2 separate regions of the Homo sapiens genome follow, and region 2 is linked to region 1. A link means that fine-mapping ties the variant in region 1 to the expression of a gene that starts in the linked region. Tissue or cell type: whole blood. Region 1 holds a variant in brackets; the other region holds the start of a gene. All regions are shown on one strand. Distances are from middle to middle.

Evidence for each region. PIP is the estimated chance that this variant, and not a neighbour inherited with it, causes the effect.
Region 2: it holds the start of FCHO1, and the variant in region 1 is fine-mapped to the expression of FCHO1 in whole blood (TOPMed, PIP 0.97).

The regions. Positions count from the first base shown.
Region 1 is chr19:17,724,245-17,726,996 of GRCh38, reverse strand. MAP1S (microtubule associated protein 1S) reads right to left here. Exons shown (of 7, transcript NM_018174.6): 4 at 1,808-1,948; 5 at 1-1,168. Among named protein-coding and RNA genes, the nearest start is that of MAP1S, 6.1 kb to the right of the region's middle. The variant T/C (reference allele first, on the strand shown) is at 1,494.
Region 2 is chr19:17,750,320-17,753,071 of GRCh38, reverse strand. It overlaps FCHO1 (FCH and mu domain containing endocytic adaptor 1), which reads right to left and starts at 1,595. Exons shown (of 29, transcript NM_015122.3): 1 at 1,495-1,595. FCHO1-AS1 (FCHO1 antisense RNA 1) reads left to right here and starts at 1,675. Exons shown (of 5, transcript XR_007067152.1): 1 at 1,675-1,856; 2 at 2,322-2,414.

The DNA.
Region 1 (2,752 bases):
GCTGGGTCCGGGAGACACTCGGTTTGGGGTCTTTCTTCAACTCCCGGGGGGTCTTGGCTTCTTTCTCAGTCTTGCGTGGGGCCTCAGCCCGTGCTGGCTCCTTGCGGGCCACCCCAGGGCGCTCCTGGCCAGGTCTAGGGTGGGTGGCCAGGAGGCCCTCTCTCTTCGAGCTGTCCCGGGAGCCCACGCTCTCTTTGCTCTCGGCTCGCCCCGGCCCCTCCAGGTCCTGGGGCGTCACCACGGGCTCTCGCAGGAACCTCAAGTGCTGCAGGCGGACCAGGCCGTCCAGGAGGCAGGCGGGCGGGGTGCAACCGGGGAACAGCACGCGCACCACCTTCTCGCCGGGGCCGGCGGGGTGCCACACCAGCAGGGCGCACACAGAGGCCAGCGTGCGCTCGGCGCCGGCGGAGGGCGGGTGCAGCACATACATGTCCAGCCGGCCCACGCCCATCTTCTCGAAGAGCACGGTGGGTTTGGCTGGCACGGGGCCGCGGCTGAGTGGCAGAGGCGTGATGCCCAGCTGCGCCAGGAGGCTCAGCGCCAGCTCCGCCTCATCCTCGCCGCGCGCCAGCCGCGACGCGGCCTCGCAGGCGTTGAAGAACACGACCCCCAGGTTGGGGGAGATGAGCCTGCGCAGCCTGTCGTCCCAGGAGCCCCCACCAGCAGCCACCTCGGAGCGCTCCGCCAGTTTGCGCCGCAGCAGGCTGTTGAGGCCGGGGAGGCTGTCGGCGCCAGGGTGGGTCACCAGCACGGCATCCACGCGGTCCAGGTGCCGCACCAGCTTCCAGAAACTGGACTTGGGGTTTGAGCCACCGTTGACCAGCACAGTGAAGCCATTGACGGCGAAGAAGGCGGCATCCCCGAGGCCTCCAGGGAAGATGTAGCAGCAGGGCCGGCCCAGCCTGAGGAAGCCCCCGGAGGTCGGGGGCTCCAGCAGCTCGAAGGGGGACGGTGGCTCCAGAGACTCAGCCACGTACTCCAGGAATTCGCACAGGCCCTCAGAGTTGGGCAGCTGCGCCGGGGGGTTCAGCCGCAGCTGGAGCCGGAGCGCCCCCTGAAGGCCAGGCACAGCGGGTGCCAGCTGAGCCCAGTCACCGAAGGTGGGGCAGGTGATGGTGAGTATGGGCGGCTGCACAGGTGGGGGCGTGGTGGCCAGGATGTCCCGGATCTGTATGGAGGAGGAGTGGTAAGGGACCACCTAGAGCCAGGCAACACCTAGCCCGGTGGGAAAACTGGGCGAGGACACCCTCATCCTTTCCCCCAGGGCCTGCTCCTCAGGGCCCTCCCGCCAAAACCCAACCCTCTCCAGCGCCACAAGGCTCTTTGATCTGGCCTCACCTCCTGTCTCTCCCTCCCCTTCAAATGCCTCCCTGCCCCAGGGCCTTTACACTCACCATTCTCTCCTCCCAGGGCACAGCTCCCTCCAAGGAGACTCTCCACGCCCCACCTGTCTACTGAACCTTTTCTCACCATTTTTAAGTGCCCCACTACAA[T/C]GTGAAAGTGAGGTTTGCCATTTTGCCCATGTGTCCTACCCAGACTGCGGGCACCAGGAAGGACCCATTTGGCTCCATCCCTCATCAGGACTTTGGGACATCTGCTGACCTACAAACTCAGCTCACACCACACCCTTTCGCGGGCAATGGGACTGACCCCAGACAGCCAGGAGGCATGTGTCACCACTGCCATCCTACAGAGGATGGGGAGACCAGGCCATGGAAAACAGCAGGTCGCTGGTGCCACACAGCCTGATACACCCCAGTCAGGATTCAGAGCTGGGGAAGCAGGGGATGGCAAAGGGGTGGCTTACCTCTCTGTCCTTCAGGACCTGGAGGAAGTGGTGAGGCGAGAAGCCCCCTGTCTGTAGCAGCAGCTCCCCCGTCTCCTCCAGGCAGGGCCCAGCCAACACCAGTAGCTTGTGAGAGGCAGGGTCCAACAGAAGGTTCCGGAGCTGAGGGAGGGGGTGAACACTAAAGGACCCGTTCTGTGCAGTGACGTATCCAGCAGTCCTCTTTGGGGTAGCCTCGAGTCGATACATAACCACCCCTCTCCTGTCCTCACCCCACGACCAGCCCAGTGCTCAACTAGCTACGAAGGCAGTCTCCAGGTCTCCTGCTGGGCCCTGGAGCAACCCTAGCAAACTCCTATTCATCCTACAAAGCCCAGCTCTGATGTCCCTTCCTCCTGAAGGCACTACTTGCCCTTTCTGGGCTCTCTCTAGTCCACCTCTCCCTCCAGCCCAGCCCTGATGCCACAGGGCTGGGGGTGTCTGTGTCTCACTCTGTCTCTTAAAGACTGAGAGCCCCTCAAGGGAACAAAAGGGAAAAGTTGATCCAAGGAATCAACCTGTAAGAAGGTCTGTAGTGGGATGCCCCAGGGCTCTGTCTGGTTCATCTTCCGGATGTATAATTGGTAGAGTACAGATGGCCACAAGCTGGTTAATGTTAGTGAGTCGATTCAGACAACTCCTGGGGCCTAGCCGGAGGGAACCCACAGGAGGAAAACCTGTCTGCTCTGGCCTTCCCACCTCCAGACCCACGCTGTCCTGGGCCCTGAGCTGGGAGTGCTTACCCTCCCCTCCCTCCCAAAGTCCAGGCTTTTCTGCTCCCACCCCAGAGGAGGGAAGAAGCGGAGGCTGAAGCCACAGGGAAGGCTTCGTGGGCGAAGAAGTGTGGTGCCGGGTGTCTTGAGAGGATCTGGGGCAGCATGAAGACAAGGACACGAGACAGGAAGACAGAGAAGGCACGGGTCCCAG
Region 2 (2,752 bases), 26 kb before region 1:
CTCGCTCTGTTGCCCAGGCTGGAGTGCAGTGGTGCGATCATAGCTCACTGCAGCCTCCACCTCCCAGGCTCAAGGGAGCCTTGAATAGTAGCCTCCCGAGTAGCTGAGACTACAGGCTCACGCCTGAATAATTTTTGTATTAAGTTTTTTTTATTTTTTTATTTTTTCTGGAGACAGGTTCTTGCTCTGTCACCCAGGCTGGAGTGTGCAGTGGCATGATCACAGCTCATGGCAGCCTCGACTTCCCAGGCTCAAGTGATCCTCCCATCTCAGCCACCCGAGTAGCTGGGACTACATGTCTAACTAATTAAAAATAAATTTTTTTTTTTTTTTTTGTAGAGACTAGGTCTCACTAGTGTGGCCCAGGCCAGTCTCGAACTCCTGAGCTCAAGCCATCCTCCTGCCTGGGACCCCCAAAGTGCTGGGATTACAGCCATGAGCCACAACCCCTGGCCTTAATTTTTGTATTAATTTTTGTATTAATGTTAAACCAAGTAAAATTAAATACAATTGGCTGGGCGCAGTGGCTCACGCCTGTAATCCCAGCACTTTGGGAGGCCGAGGTGGGTGGATCACTTGAGGTCAGGAGTTCGAGACCTGCCTGGCCAACATGGTGAAACCCCATCTCTACCAAAAAATATAAAAATCAGCAGGGCGTGGTGGCACACACCTGTAGTCCCAGCTACTTGGGAGGATGAGGCAGGAGAATCACTTGAACCTGGGAGGCGGAGGTTGTAGTGAGCCAAGATTGCCCCACTGCACTCCAACCTGGTTGAAAGAGTGAGATTCTGTCTTAAAAAAATAATAATTAAATACATACATACATACATACATACATACATACAATTATATGCCCAGCTCCTCAGCTGTGCCAGCCTCTCTTCCAAGGCTCAGTAGCTACATGGGGCTGATGGCTGCTGTATTGGATGGCCAACATTGTTCTAGAAGATCCCAGGAACCAAGGAGCCCAAGTTCCCCAGAAACCAAGAATCTCACTACTGTTTTCACAGTTTCAATTAGATTGCCTCACCCCACCTCTGGCAGACAGATACACATGGAGCACCAGTATGTGTGCGACCCTGTACCCAACTATTCACACGCATCTGCTCATCCAATCTTCATGCCATGCCCTCAGAGGCAACCCCAACTTTATGAAGGAAACCGAGGCACAGAGAGATCAATCATTGGTCCCGGCTGACTGTGATTTTGCCCCTGGTCTGTCTGCCAATGACCTCCTGTTTGAAACCATCACGCGTGGCTCTCTGGGTTTCCAAGCTCCCCTTGCCGCCCCCCTAACCCAAACCACCACTCACAGCTGGAATGGGGGACGGGGGGCAGGGCAACGGGTGGCCCCATGCAGGCTTTGGCCAGCCCAGGAAGTGACACCTGCTACTTCTCCTGAAACCCAGGCTCCGGGCAGGGGGGCCTCCCCTCTGTTCCTGAGGGGGGCCAAGGCGAGATGATGGGTATCTACTGGCCAGGGCTCAAACTCACCGGACAGGGTAGCGAGTGGGATGGGGCCCCTGTCTGACGGGGCAGGCGCCAGGAGACAGCCACGAGGCCACTTCCGTCAGCACCAAGTTGGAGGCTTGTGTGCATGGGTTGGGGGGGGGACAGGAAGCTCACCCCGCCCCGCCTACCATCCAACCGCCACCTTTCCTCCCCCGCCCGATCAGCACCCATGGGACCTCCCTGGAACCACACAGGCCATGGGTGAGTAAACAAGAGGCGCTTGAACCTGGAGCCCCCCGGCCTGAACCTGGAGCTGTTCTTACCGAACAAATATTAATCATGGCAATTGGGAAATAACTGAGCACCAACCCTGGCCCAGGCATTCAACATCTTGCCATCCTGAGGTAGGCCGATACCCACTTCACAGACTGGGCAAACTGAGGCTCAGAGAGGGAAATGCGCTCAGAAAGGGGAAGACATGGCCAGGCGCGGTGGCTCACGCCTGTAATCCCAGCACTTTGAGAGGCCAAGGTGGGTGGATCACGAGGTCAAGAGGTTGACACTATCCTGGCCAACACGGTGAAACCCCGTCTCTACTAAAAATACAAAAATTAGCTGGGCGTGGTGGCCCATGCCTGTAGTCCCAGCTACTCAGGAGGCTGAGGCAGGAGAATCACTTGAACCCGGGAGGTGGAGGTTGCAGTGAGCCAGAGGTTGCAGTGAGCCGAGATTGCGCCACTGCACTCCAGCCTGGCGACAGAGCGAGACTCCATCTCAAAAAAAAAAAAAAAAGAAAAGAAAGGGGAAGACATTTTTGCATTCATGAGCGCTTTCCTTCACTACAAAAGAAATTTAAAATTATATTTTAGGTGGTGGCTGATGCCTGGAATCCCAGCACTTTGGGAGGCCGAGGCAGGTGGATTGCTTGAGCCCAGGAGTGCGAGAACAGCCTGGGCAACATGGTAAAACCCCGTCTCTACTAAAAATACAAAAGTTAGCTGGGTGGGGTGGCATATGCCTGTAATCCCAGCTACTCGGGAGGCTGAGGCAGGAGAATCGCTTGAACCCAGGAGATGGAGGTTGCAGTGAGCGGAGATCGAGCCACTGCACTCCAGCCTGGGTGACAGAGAGAGACTCTGTCTCAAAAACAAAACAAAACAAAACTGTATTTTACAACTACATTGACATAAAGACAAATATATTAATATTATACACAAAAATGTTTCCTTCAACCCAAGAGTTCATTTTTTTCCCTTTGGATTTTAAAAGAAGTGAAAACATCAACCTAGGGACCCCTAAA